Homo sapiens: one gene and its partners. The protein of the gene in region 1 interacts with the protein of each later gene in a pairwise test. Each region holds a gene or a part of one and is shown in the gene's direction. Other genes may lie near its edges.

Region 1 (3,500 bases):
TTTCTTTTCACTGTAGCTGCTTGTTAAAGCAGTATACTCAATCTCTGATAAGCAACAGTAAATTTGATCGATTTGTATCCTAAATTTAGCTATCACTTTACATTTTGTTTTATTCATAATATGAACTTTAGCTTCTAAAAATCAACTTTTTAATAGCTTAATATATAAAGCCATCTTAAATCAAGGAATATCTATAGGGACTTAAGGTAATATTCAACTAAATTGGCAAGTGACTACCATTATCCTATTAAAGCTCTAAAATGCAATATTTCAATCACAGAAAAAAAATCTTATAATTTAAAGAACTATAAATTGCCAGATGTTTCCCTAGTTATTACGTTAGTGACAAATTAGACAACTGGAAATAGAAAACAGAGTATATGTTTGGAACAGTCATAAAAGGACTAGTGACTATTGCTGCTAGCTGTGGTTGTATTAACATTAAAATATTTGCTATGGGATTTTTCTTCTTATCAAAGCAGATGCTCAGATGAGGAAAAACTTTCTTGCATATGAAAATCAAAATTGTCTTCCAAAATATTTAAGTAACAAAAAATTCATTATGTAGTATAAATGCTGTATGATTACATTATTCTTATAGTTAATTTAGAAGGGTTTGAATTTGTTTTTGTTTTGTTTGTGTTTGTTTCTTCGATAGGTGCATTCTCTAACTGTCTTAAGTAGAAACAAATGTCTAGAATCTCTCAGTGATTATCAGTCTCCTTCCTATTACCAAGAATGTTTTTATTGTGTTGTTAATCTCACATGTAATTTTTTTAACATTTAAAAGTTTGGAAAATGGGTAAAAAATGAGTGTGCCTTGTTTCCTATTATTACAATGTGCCTTCCTATTTCAAGTCCCAATTCTAGATTTCCTTAAAACTTAAAATCATAGAATTAATAATCTTTCAGTTTAAGTCAACTTTTGTGTGATTTCTTGTCCACTTATACACACATAGATGCCTTCATCTTCACCAAATAATGTAGAAATTTTATTTAGTTCAATGGATTTAAGTACTCTGTATGCTTAAGTACAAAATAAGAATATTGAGAAATACACATATGATTGTGTACCTTTTTTTTTTTTTTTTTTGAGACAGAGTCTTGCTCTGTTGCCCAGGCTGGCGTGCAGTGGCATGATCTCGGCTCACTGCAACCTCTGCCTCCCAGGTTCAAATGATTTTCCTGCCTCAGCCTCCTTAGTAGCTGGGATTACAGGTGCATGCCGCCACGCCCAGCTAATTTTTGTATTTTTAGTAGAGAAGAGGTTCGCCATGTTGGCCAGGCTGGTCTCAAACTTCTGACCTCAAGTGATCTCCCTGCCTCGGCCTCCCAAAGTGCTGGGATTACAGACATGAGCCACCTCACCTGGCCTGATTTTGTACTTTTAAAGAGAATTTGTTGTTGCTAATTTGCTAAGTTTATTTAGATATTTTCTGATTCTATATTAGTCAAAGCTCCTCTTATCTACTTTGGAAAATGAAGAATTATGTCTATAAAATATATCAACAACAGCTGCAGGTACTTACAGAGGAAATACTGTGGATCTGAGTGATATTAGGCCCTGAGGATACAAGCCAAAGTATAAAAATGGTCTTTGCCGTAGAGAGATAGTAGTCAAGCTAAGCACATATTTTGGCATGGGTCTCTAATAGCCTAATGCTAGTAGGGTGGGAAGCCATTTAAAAATGGCCCCTCCTTCTGTCCTGCCTTTCAGACCAGATGGTGTGTCTAAAGTGGTCACACTGTTTGGTTCTGGCCACTTCTGTAATAACCACTGCTCCTTTCCCCTCCTCGTGAGATTATAACTCCTTTGACAGTATGGATGGCACCTAACGCATCCTTGTTTTCTTTTACTAAATGTTCCACGGAGTCACTTGCTTGCCTGTTTGTTGCTTATTTGTTTGTTTTTGGCTAAAACTACAGAAAATGTTAAATACATTTTCAGACCTTTATATTTTAAAAAAGAAATGTTAAGAAATAAATAATTTTTCTAATCTCATTTAGATACACTGTCCTATTACACACAATGACAAATTTGATGCTTTTGTCTTGCTAATTGAAGAGCTAAGCATGAATACAGTTTTTCAGTCTACAGCAGCAATGACAAGGGTAAAGTGGAGAAAAGAGTAAGGAAAGAAAAAATTAAAAAGAATAAAAGGTTGAAATATCAAATCGGTGGTTCTTAAGATGACAGAGGCAGGTGAGACAAGAATACTGGAATCACCCAGGGGGCATATGAAATCTGTACATTTCATCCACACCTTCTTTTCTCCCCCTGTCCTCATTCCCCCTGTTGAGACACATTGTATTACAAATTAGGAGGAAACCATCTAAAATTATCTCACGTATCCCAGTTCCCATATTAGCATCATGAGTATCACCTGAGAGTTTGTTGGAACTGCAGAATCTCAGACCCTGTCCAGACCCATTGATTGCATAAGAATCTGCATTTTAGCAAAATCCTCAGGTGATTCAAATGCACATTAAGGGAAAAGAAACACAGTGTACCGTACCTGTGGCTTGTTTAGAATAATTATGAAGAGGTGTTTTCTTGGCTCTTAACTAACGTTTTTAATAAAGCTAATATTTATTGAGTACATAAATGTGCCAAACACAACGTTCAGTCTTTCTTTAAATTTTTTTTATTTAATCCTCACAACAACCCTGTGAGATAGTTTCTGTTTTATCCTTATTTTATAGATTGGGATACCAAGTAATAATGAGATAAGTAGTTTACCCAAAAGCTGTAACTGATACAGTCGAGATGTAAACATAAGAATTCTAATTTCATTGCCTGTTCTCTTAGCTGTTACCTACAGTGTCTGCTCTATACTGGGCTACCTACTTTTTAAGGCCAACTAATTATTTGAAAATTTATTTAAAGTTTTAATTTGAGATCAAAATCTGTTTCCCTCATAAATTTTTTTTAAAAAAAGCAAACAAGATCTATTCCATTTTGATCTAATGTTTTCCTGTCACCTTACCTTTAAGTGCAATAATGGGAAATTCTAGAAATTCCTTCTTTAACTGTTTGAAAAAATACCAAAACTATGACAGCCTGTCCAAATCCACTAAAATATATTTTTATATGCATGCTTTTTGTATATCAATTATACTTCAATAAAGCTTTTTAAAAAAATAGTAGATGACATACTTTTAAAAATTAACTTTGGAGCCCAGGTATGGTGGCTCAGACCTGTAATCCCAGCACTTTGGGAGGATCACTTGAGGCCAGGAGTTTGAGACCAGCTGAGGCAACAAACTGAGACCCCCATCTCTACAAAAAATAAAAAATTGCCAGAGCATGGTGGCGCACACCATGTAGTAGTTGGGACCTGTAGTCCCAACTACTCAGGAGACTGAGTTGGGAGGATTGCTTGAGTCTGGGAGGTGAAGGCTGCAGTGAGCCATGATCACACCACTGCACTCCAGCCTGAGCAACAGAGAAAGACCCTGTCTCGAATAATAATAATAATAATAACAACTTTTGATATCTC
Region 2 (3,500 bases), on another chromosome or scaffold:
TTTTGAGATGGAGTCTCACATTGTTGCCTGGGCTAGAGTGCAGTGGTGTGATCTTGGCTCACCGCAATTTCCACCTCCTGGGTTCAAGCGATTCTCCTGCCTCAGTCTCCCGAGTAGCTGGGATTATAGGCATGCGCCACCACACTCGGCTAATTTTTTTGTATTTTTAGTAGAGATGGGGTTCTCCATGTTGATCCGGCTGGTCTTGAACTCCTGACCTCGTGATCAGGACCAGCTCGGCCCCCAAAGTGCTGGGATTACAGGCGTGAGCCACCGTGCCTGGCCGACTTCGAATTTTTTAATAAGAATTTTTTGGCCGGGCGCAATGGCTCACACTTGTAATCCCAGCACTTGGAGAGGCCGAGGCAGGCGAATCACCTGAGGTTGGGAGTTCCAGACCAGCCTAACCAACGTGGAGAAACTCCGTCTCTACTAAAAATACAAAATTAGCTAGGCCTGGTGGCGCATGCCTGTAATCCCAGCTACTCCGGAGGCTGAGGCAGGAGAATCGCTTGAACCCAGGAGGCAGAGGTTGCGGTGAGCCAAGGTCACACCATTGCACTCCAGCCTGGGCAAAAAGAGTGAAATTCCATCTCTCAAAAATATAAAAGAATTTTTTATTTGGGTCTAAAAATTTAGAATTTAGAATATGACTACCAACTTAATTTCTTAGTCTTTGTTTCAGATAATATATCTCAGTGGAGTATTTAGAGTTTAAGAAGATGAGTAATCATGGAGCTGAGTACTTGATAAGTTTGAGAACATGTTCATGATCATTGTGGGGATATGACATTTTTTACCTCTTACCATATATCGATTCTCACCCACCCCCCATTTTTTGAAACAAGGTCTTGCTTTGTCACCCAGGGTGGAGTGCATGGCTCACTGCAGCCTCGACCTCCTGGGCTCAAGCAGTCCTCCCACTTCAGCCTCCCAAGTAGTCAGGACCACAGGTGTATGCCACCATGACTGGCTAATTGTTTAATTTTTTTGTAGAGATGGGGTCGCACTGTGTTGCCCAGGCTGGTCTCGAACTCCTGGGCTCAAGCTGTCTCCCTGCCTTGGCTTCTCAAAGTGCTAGGATTACAGGCATGAGCCACCACACTCAGCTGATTCCCTTTTTAGTAAATCTACTAGATCTATGACTTTATTTGTTAATAATTAGAGTAGCACCATGTTTTTAAGTGATTAGAACTCTTGAAAATGAATATCCACACTAAATTCCATTATAGCAAAGAACTAATTTAGAAAATGTTCATAATGAGAGTTTTGATGGCGATTTGTTTTGAGTAGTGTTGAAAGGCTCTTAGAGTGCATGTGAAGGGATGAATCTTTTGAGAAAAGAAAGATAGTAGACATTTTCTGAGACATAAAATAATCCAGATTTATTCCACCAGACAGCTTTACAGTGTATAGTATTTTAAGAGCTAACTGCCTTCAGATTCACTGGACTTTTCTGTCCTTTTGCCAGGTACTGACTTGGGCAACAGCAGTGACTACAAGTGCCATACTGACCAATTGGAAGAGTCTTTGCTTATCGGAGCTGTTCTAAAAGGCTTATTAGTTTTTGGTCTTCATTCTATTTAATGTTTTCATGCCTTTATAAACTTTTTACTTCCAGCCCAATTTTTCCCATTGTCTTGGTACAGGTCAGCTGTGTCCAAGTTTGTTAGGGTTTCAGCTAGCCAAAAATGGTATTTTCATTTGCTGAAATTCTAAACAAAATAATTAAAGTTAAAGCACAGATGATGATGCTACCTTATTTTTCTACATGTGGGAAAGCTTGATTGATAGTAATGATTAGCGCCTGCATCTCACAATCACTGAGAAATGAATGCAGCACTGAGCTCTGTTTGCCCTCTAAGCTTGTCCCCAGAAAAAACAAGATATACCCTAAATAGTAAGTTATAATATTTTTATTAGGGAACATTATTAGAGTTTTTTTTTAATATATCTCGTAGCCATGTCATATTAATCTTTTTTCTTTTTTCCTTTTTTTCATTTTTCTCTTTTCTCTTCTCTTCTCTTCTCTTTTCTCTTTCTCACTCTGTCACCCAAGCTGGAGTGCAGTGGCATGACCATGGCTCACTGCAGCCTTGACCTCCCAGACTCAAGCAATCCTCCCACTCCAGCCTCCCAAGTGACTGGGACTACAGGCACGTGCCACCATGCACGGCTAATTTTTCTATTTTTTGTAGGGGCAGGATCTCAGCATGTTGCCCAGGCTGATCTTGACCTCTTGGACTCAAGCAATTTTCCCTCCTGTGCCTCCCAAAGTTCTAAGATACAGGCATGAGCCACCACACCCAGCCTAGAGAATCCTTAATGTTTGAAGTCTGTCAGGCTATCATGGTGCTCAGCAGAGGATGTGTTAGTATTCTGAGAATAGGACTTCTAACTTTAGTTTTACCTGAGATTATTCTACACCTAACTTGAAACTTTTGGAGTATTAAAGGTTCAAAGAAGTTAAGAGAAAAGCAAAGCTTGATAAACTGACCAGTTTGTGTCCTGCTAAAGCATAGACAGTTTTACCATGCTCTTCCCAGTGACATGAATATTCTTTGGTTAGCATTCAATTTGGTTGCTTTCTTTTTTGTTTAATCAGGCACTGTCACCACTGTATTATTGTCATCATTTTGCTTATTGATTTTGCTTATTGTCTGCCTTCCCCTCTGTGTTGTAAGCTCCATAAAGGCAAGAAATTTTTTCTGTTTTATTCACTGCTTTAAGCCCAGTTTCTAAAACAGTGTCTGACACGTGGTAGGCACTCAATAAATACCTGTTGAATTATTACTAATTCATTTTGTAGACTTTCATCTGTAAGATGACAGATCTGAATCATCTGAAATCTCCATCTCCATAAAACATATAAGCTGGCTGGGTGCAGTGGCTCATGCCTGTAATCCTAGTACTTTGTGAGGCTGAGGCGAGCAGATTGCTTGAGCTCAGGAGTTCGAGACCAGCCTGCGCAACGTGGTGAAACCAGCTCTCTACTAAAAATACAAAAAATTAGCCAGGTGCGGTGGTGCACGCCTGTAATCCCAGCTACTTCGGAGGCTGAGTCAGGAAAATCGCTTCAATCTGGGGGGCGGAGGTTGCAGTGAGCCGAGATTGCACCACTGCACTCCAGCCTGGGCAACAGAACTAGACTCTGTCTAAAAAAAACACACAAAAAACACACAAAAAAACATATAAGCTGAACCTCCCCTGTGGGGTGGAGTCAGTTTGACTCACCTCAGAGTTGTTTGAAGAGAGAGGTTCCCAAACAGTTTTACCATAACCTTAGTTCACTGAATGTTTTGTGGTAGAAACACTGACTAGTAAGTTCAGTAACAATGCATGGCTCAGATTGTGGAATATTTCTGATTTAAATGTAATCTGTAGTACTTCACACTTCAGATTTTTGAACCTTTTAACCTACAATACTGGGCTTCATTTCTGTTATGCCCTAATCTAGTCATGCTGAATATCCATACTGTATAATGGTAGATGCAAACCAT
Region 3 (3,951 bases), on another chromosome or scaffold:
AGGAGGATCACTTGAGCCCAGAAATTTGAGACCAGCCTAGGCAACACAGTGAGACTCCCATCTCTACAAAAAATGAAGAAAATTAGCCAGGCATGGTGGTGTGCACCTGTAGTCCCAGCTACTTGGGAGGCTGAGGTGCAAGGATTGCTCGAGCCTGGGAAGGTTGGGGCTGCAGTGAGCTATGATCGCACTACTGCATTCCAGCCTGGGCGACCCTGTCTCAAAAACAAAAACAAAAGAGAGATGAAGAGAGAAAGGAGGAAGGACCCAAAGAAGGGGCCAGAAGCAGAGAGAGGCCAGGCACAGTGGCTCACGCCTGTAATCCCAACACTTTGGGAGGCCAAGGCAGGAGGGTCGCTTGAGTCCAGGAGTTCCAGACCAGCCTGGGCAACCTAGTGAGACCCTATCTCTGTTTTTTTTTAATTAAATATAAAAAATACAACACTCCCACTCCATAGCAAGACCCCATTTCTACAAAAAATACAAAAATTAGCCAGGCATGGTAGTGTGCACCTGTAATCCCAGCTACTCAGAAGGCAGAGGTGGGAGGATAGCTTGAGCCCAGGCTACAGTGAGCTGTTTTCCCCACCGTACTCCAGCCTGGGTGAAAAGTGAGACCCTGTCTCAAAAAGAAACAAATATATAAATAAAATAAAGAAACACAGAGAGAGGGAGGATAGAGACCCCAGGAGGCAGGAGGACAGAGACCCAGAGGAGGGAGAGACTCTGCTGAGATAAGGGGACAGAGATGGGGAGTAGCAGGAAGGTGGGGACAAAGACCCAGAGAGGAGGAACAAGAGACCCAGGGCAGGAAATGGGAGACACAGCTGGATGCAGAGATGGGAGAGCTTAGCAGGCCATGAGGTCAGAGTGTCTGTGAGGTCAGCTGCTGTCCAGGGTCAGCCCTGAGGTCCCCATGCCCAGAGGTGGGTTCCAGTAGATCAGGGGTCCCTTTAGATCCCCCAGCGCCTGAGACATGGAGACCTGGGAGGGACTGCCCCATGAGTCCTTGGTGCCCACAAATTCCAAGGCCCCTCAGGTACCAGAGCATGTGTCCCAGTGGAGCAGGTGAGGGAGACAGGGACAGAGAGAGAGACAGAAAGCCACCTTACATGAAGCGGGAGTGGGTGGAGCCCCACCCCTGGAACTTCCTCTTTTGGGGTTCTTCCTTTCTCTCTCAGCTCTCCGTCTCTCTTTCTCTCTCAGCCTCTTTCTTTCTCCCTGTCTCCCCCACTGTCAGCACCTCTTCTGTGTGGTGAGTGGACCGCTTACCCCACTAGGTGAAGATGTCAGCCCAGGAGAGCTGCCTCAGCCTCATCAAGTACTTCCTCTTCGTTTTCAACCTCTTCTTCTTCGTGAGTTGCCTCATGGCTACCCAGCCGGGGCCCAGCCCCTGCCGCTAACCCAGCCCTCATCTTCCCCTGTGGCCCACCCCCGTATCCGCATCTCCTCTCCCCAGGTCCTCGGCAGCCTGATCTTCTGCTTCGGCATCTGGATCCTCATTGACAAGACCAGCTTCGTGTCCTTTGTGGGTGAGGGGGGCTGGGGCAGGTGGGAGGGCCTCCCCCAACCCAAGCAACTTCCTGGGGTCTCCCTTGTCTCAGGGAGACCTACGGTGCCCTACTCTGCAGGCAGGCTACAGGCTCCCATCCACTGCTCACCGGAGGCTTCTTGGAGCCTGAGTCTTCTTCCGGCAAATGGGGTTGTGCATACAAACAACAATGATCATGAGAGCCATTTCTCAAGCACTTCCTATCTGTCGGGACTTGTGGCTGGTCAGATGCCCCCACAAACCTTCCCCTCGCTTGAGGTTCAGAGAGGGGAAGCCCCTTGATGGATGTCATACAGCAAGGACGTAAAAGAGCCAAAATAACATTAATAATAGGAAAATAATAATGAAGTATGACCCTAAATAATAATGAAATATAACCCTAAACGCTCATATTTAAGAAGTCTTTGCCCTGTGTTGAGGACTGGGTTGAACACATGTCCTCATGTGTCTCTCAAAATGACCCTAGGGGCCGGGCGCGGTGGCTCACACCTGTAATTCCAGCACTTTGGGAAGCCGAGGCAGGTGGATCACTTGAGGTCAGGAGTTCGAGAATAGCCTGGCCAACATGGTGAAACCCTGTCTCTACTCAAAAATACAAAACGTTAGCCAGGCATGGTGGCACATGCCTGTAGTCGCAGCTACTAGGGAGGCTGAGGCAGGAGAATCACTTGAACCTGGGAGGCAGAGGTTGCAGTGAGCCGAGATCACATCACTGCACTCCAGCCTGGGGGACAGAGCGAGGCTCCAACTCAAAAAAAAACCCTAAGAAATAGATATCATCTCCTATGCCTCAGGGAGGTTTAAGGAGCCAAGCCAATGTCACAGAACAAGTGATAGGGCTGAAACTACTGGGGACGAGGAGGAGCTGAAGGAGGAAGGAGAGGGTAAGAGGAAGAGAGACAGAGATCCAGGGACGGGAAACAGGCCCAGAAAGAAGAGAAAGTTTCAGAAGGAAACAGGGACTCAGGGTGGGGCAGGGACAGAGTCCCAGAGAGAGGGGCACCAAGATACTGCTCCCCACTTGGGTGGCTGCCTAGGTGGGAAATGGGGCTGCCTGGAGCTGTGCCACACAGCTCATCATCACTCCCCTCACCTCTCCCAGGCTTGGCCTTCGTGCCTCTGCAGATCTGGTCCAAAGTCCTGGCCATCTCAGGAATCTTCACCATGGGCATCGCCCTCCTGGGTTGTGTGGGGGCCCTCAAGGAGCTCCGCTGCCTCCTGGGCCTGGTGAGTGCACCATCCCTCTCCGTCCCTAGGAACACTCCTATCCCCACCCTCAAAAATGGCCTGGGCCGGGGTTGCAGGGGTGGTCAGCCTGATCTCTCCACTCTGCTCCCCAGTATTTTGGGATGCTGCTGCTCCTGTTTGCCACACAGATCACCCTGGGAATCCTCATCTCCACTCAGCGGGCCCAGGTGAGCTTCCTGCAGTGGCCACCACCCACCCCCAGCAGGGAGGAGAGGGAAGGGAGTGGTGGGAGAGGGTGGAGAGAGACCGAAACAAGGGCAGACAGGGGCTAACCTAGATAAAGAGAAATAAGAGGCTGGGCCTGGTGGCTCACGCCTGTAATCCCATAATCCCAGCACTTTGGGAGGCTGAGGTGGGAGTCCAGGAGTTTGAGACCAGCCTGGGCAACATAGTGAGACCCCATCTATATTTAAAAAAAAAATCCGGGTGTGATGGTGTGCACCTGGGGTCCCAGCTACTTGGGAGGTCGAGGTGGGAGGATCACTTGAGCCAGGGAGTTTGAGGCTACAGTGAGCCATGCACTCAGCCTGGGTGACAGAGTGAGACCCTGTCTCAAAAAATAAATTAATAGAAAGACACACCGACCTGGACCAAGGGAGACAGGCATAAACAGCTCCAAAGGGAAACACACGGGAAAAAGAGAGAACAAGAGAAAGAAATAGACGCCCTGAAAGAAGAGACAGAGACTTATGAGCCGTAGAAATAGTGGAAGAAACAGAAAGACAGACCTGAAGTACACAGAGCTAGCCATTCAGTAAGGATTTGAGACTGGCCCAGAGATGCACAGGGCCCGCCTGAGGCTGGCACAGCCTGAGAGGGGGAGGGGTGGGGCGGGGAAGATAAGGCCCAGCCTCACTGGTGGCCTCTCAGCTGGAGCGAAGCTTGCGGGACGTCGTAGAGAAAACCATCCAAAAGTACGGCACCAACCCCGAGGAGACCGCGGCCGAGGAGAGCTGGGACTATGTGCAGTTCCAGGTAAGCCCCCCTCCTCCAGTTCCCTCCCGGACTGACCCGCCTCAGCCCTGTGCTTGGAGGAGACTCCACCCCAACGTGGGCCCGACCCCCAGCTCTACGATCCTAACACACCCCAATCCCTCCCAGGCCCGACGCTCCCCACTCCCCAGATGACACAACTGTCCCCGGCGTCGCCT
Region 4 (3,500 bases), on another chromosome or scaffold:
CATAGCTCTTTCTACAGCTTTTTTTTTCTGATTATAAAAATTACATTAAAAATGGGACATTCAAAAACAGAATAAAAGCACACACAGAATAAAATAATCTGTAATTCTGTTCCTTGAGATGATTCTGCTACAAATTTTATCTTTCCAGTTTTATTTCTGCATGTGTATGCATTTTAAGGAATATTAAGGCTATACTATGACATGCTATCTTGTAAGTTGTTGGCACTTAATGTATTAGGCACAGTTAATTTTGTTAACATTTATTTCATAACTAGATTTTTATGTCTGCATAATATTGCAGCATGAATATACTATAAAATATAACCAGTTTCTTACATTTGAATATTTATTTTCTTCTGGGCTTTATTATAAGTGATTCAATAAAAATCCTTGTACAGTAGGTTTTTTTATGTATCCCTGGTTGTTTCCCTTGGATAAATTTCTACAGGTAAAATTGCTGAATCAAAAGGGATAAACAGTTTTAGGATTTTTGGTACATATTTCCAGACTGCCTAAGAAAGCAACCATTGTACCCTTGCTAGCCGTGTATGACAGCCTGTTTGGCCAGCTTTCCACCAATCTGAATATCCAATGGATAGAGTAAATATGCTTTTTAAACCTCTTTTAGGCTCTTTCATTTAAAAATGATCAAGATTAAAAACATTTTTAAAACATTTTTGATGTTACAAATTCTTTATTTTATTTTACAGATATACCATTGTATTTATCTATTACGCATTCTGCTTGGTATTAATGATGCTGCTCCGACCTCTTCTGGTGAAGAAGATTGCATGTGGGTTAGGGAAATCTGATCGATTTAAAAGTATTTATGCTGCACTTTACTTCTTCCCAATTTTAACCGTGCTTCAGGCAGTTGGTGGAGGCCTTTTATGTAAGTTTGATGGGTAAAGTCAATGAAATATATTTATTATTGTATGTAGTAATATTTCCTCTAGATTTAATTTTGGAGATTTTTCCTTAAGATAGTTTGTTTAATCCTTTTTTTTTTTTTTTTTTTTTTTTTTTGTGATGGAATCTCACTCTATCACCAGGCTGGAGTACAGTGGCATGATCTCGGTTCACTGCAACCTCCGCCTCCTGGGTTCAATTGATTCTCCTGCCTCAGCCTCCCAAGTAGCTGGGACTACAGGCATGTGCCACCACACCCAGCTAATTTTTGTATTTTTTTTTAGTAGAGACGGGGTTTCACCATGTTGGCCACATTGATCTCGATCTCCTGACCTCATGATCTGCCCACCTCTCTTTGCATTTGAAGTTCATGACGAAATTAAAATATTTTAAAAATCTAAGTATGTAATAAGAAATAAAAACTGGTTTTTATTTAGGAATTTATGAAAATTAGTCTTGATAATGTATACTGTTTATTATTAAGTAGGGTCTTAGGTTTCTAAGTGTATTTATGAAAACCTTTTATAGTAAAAAGTCCTCAATATATCTTTTATTTTAATGTAACCATTAATTCATTTGTTTAGTAACCATTTAGACCAAACTGTGACTCAAAAGAATAAGACAAATTCACTGTTAAAAACCTCACTTACTACCAGGAGATAAAGTAGGCAAGCCAGTGGCTGAGAAAATGTAGTGTGGTTCTTTTGAATATGTGACATTGAACGTCCCAAGGATGTTGGACACCATCCTTTATATGGAGCTTGGTAATGTAATTTGGTAATATAGTTTGGGAATGTAATTTGGTTCAAGGTGATGGTGGGGCTTGAGGGTAAGACCAAGGGAACCAGAAATTCTGTTATCCGCCATATTCTGGTTTACAGATGAACTGTTTCATTTGGCCTGCACAGGATTTGAAAATCTATAGTTCCCTCTAGCTCCTCTATTTCCCTGTTAGATTTGGCCCATTCCCTTATACCTTCCTGGCTACCCTCTCTGTCTTTTGAGGTTGCCATTCTTGCTCTAGGGAATAGGGACCTGTTCTTAAAAGGATTTAGGCAGAAGAGTGACATGATTACATTTGCACTGATTTGCACTAATTTGGGCTTAGTTAGAAACTTCCTCTTTATTCCTTTTTACTGTATATGGCTTTTTACTACCAGGTCTTAAATTTGTATCATTAGCAACATTGTTTAGCTACTTATAAGTTAAGTAGAGTTTTTGTTTTGTTTTGTTTTGAAAAGTTGATTGAGGACCTAATAACTGTCTATGAAATAAAAAGTTATAAATGTCAAATAAGTCATTCAGTTCTTTAGTAAGTTGGAATCAGGCCTGTATAGATAATTCAGTTTCTAGCTGCTGAATCCTGAGTTAACATTTGAAATTGTTCCAAATGGGTTCTACTGCAATGATAAGTAGTTTCATAAACTGAAGTCATTTACAAATAATGTATGAAAAAAATTCAAAGTTTTTTTCTCAATTTGTCCATTTATTTTAGTGTGTTATAAATTTGAAACATTTTAAGAGAAAAGTGGTGTTTTAGAGGAAAAAATTTGCTTAAAGTATTACTGTACTGTATTTAAAGTAGAGATTGCAGGAATTTTGATATTAAGAATACTGAATGATCTCTTTATCCTTTAAGGTTTATTGCTAAATGACCTTTTCTAAAGATTAATTAAAGCTGAGTTACTCTTATAGATAACCTTTTTCAACTGCGGTTCCCCACCTTGACCACAAAACACAGAAAATTATTTGACCATTTTTTTGAATTCTCCTAAATTTAGTACATAACTGGTACTATTCTAGAATGCAGAGGAGAGAAGTTAATTATTTACATTCACTGGATGCCTTAATAAGGCAAGGTTCTTCAAAGCTGGCCCAAGGATAGTTTTTACAATTTTTTATGGTTAAAAAATCAAAAGACTTATATTTCTAGATGTGAGTATGAAACGTATGTTTTATTGTCCATAAAGTTTTTATTGGAACACAGCCGTGCCCATTCATGTATGTATTCTCTATGGCTGCTTTCCCACTACAACTGCAGAGCTGGGTAATCGAGACAGAGAAATGCAGGGCTGAAACTATTTACTATCTTGCCCTTTCCAGAAAAAGCTTGCTGGCCACTGCCTCAGAACCTTAGGTTGTAAGTCTCACAGAACTGGTTGAGAAAGGATTTGACTCTAAGGAAAATTACTATTTGAATTTATTTGATGGTTTATTGAGAAAATTTGTTTCATTTCCAACATAATACCAATGCTTATCTTTCAGATTACGCCTTCCCATACATTATATTAGTGTTATCTTTGGTTACTCTGGCTGTGTACATGTCTGCTTCTGAAATAGAGGTAGGAAGTCTTTTTTTCCTTTGTTAAAGACTTTTTGATAAATTTGACAATTCAATATCAGAATAGTCCATATGATATGATATAGTACAACTAATTGTTTTAGTAATCTTTGGCTGATTGATGCCACTTGGTAGCTTTTGGCTTGTTAACTTTATGAAAAGTTGTGTACTGGACTATATATTTCCCTGGGAAATTAGCAAAATAGTGAAGTAGTCAGGCCCAACTATCCAGCATGAAGGAGAAATGTCA

The links. The genes of interacting proteins can lie anywhere in the genome.
Region 2: the proteins of AGTR1 (region 1) and RTN3 interact in a two-hybrid assay, tested with the Homo sapiens proteins (one large-scale study listed by BioGRID and IntAct).
Region 3: the proteins of AGTR1 (region 1) and CD37 interact in a two-hybrid assay, tested with the Homo sapiens proteins (one large-scale study listed by BioGRID and IntAct).
Region 4: the proteins of AGTR1 (region 1) and JKAMP interact in a two-hybrid assay, tested with the Homo sapiens proteins (one large-scale study listed by BioGRID and IntAct).

Annotation. Positions count from the first base shown.
Region 1 is NC_000003.12:148,700,903-148,704,402, forward strand, and holds part of AGTR1 (type-1 angiotensin II receptor), read left to right. Parts: intron 1-3,500. UniProt on the Homo sapiens protein: Receptor for angiotensin II, a vasoconstricting peptide, which acts as a key regulator of blood pressure and sodium retention by the kidney.
Region 2 is NC_000011.10:63,712,500-63,715,999, forward strand, and holds part of RTN3 (reticulon-3), read left to right. Parts: intron 1-3,500. UniProt on the Homo sapiens protein: May be involved in membrane trafficking in the early secretory pathway. Inhibits BACE1 activity and amyloid precursor protein processing. May induce caspase-8 cascade and apoptosis.
Region 3 is NC_000019.10:49,334,255-49,338,205, forward strand, and holds the start of CD37 (leukocyte antigen CD37), read left to right. Parts: upstream 1-1,151; 5' UTR 1,152-1,286; coding exon 1,287-1,355; intron 1,356-1,459; coding exon 1,460-1,532; intron 1,533-2,654; coding exon 2,655-2,779; intron 2,780-2,892; coding exon 2,893-2,967; intron 2,968-3,670; coding exon 3,671-3,775; intron 3,776-3,951. UniProt on the Homo sapiens protein: Structural component of specialized membrane microdomains known as tetraspanin-enriched microdomains (TERMs), which act as platforms for receptor clustering and signaling.
Region 4 is NC_000014.9:59,498,017-59,501,516, forward strand, and holds part of JKAMP (JNK1/MAPK8-associated membrane protein), read left to right. Parts: intron 1-710; coding exon 711-892; intron 893-3,174; coding exon 3,175-3,251; intron 3,252-3,500. UniProt on the Homo sapiens protein: Regulates the duration of MAPK8 activity in response to various stress stimuli.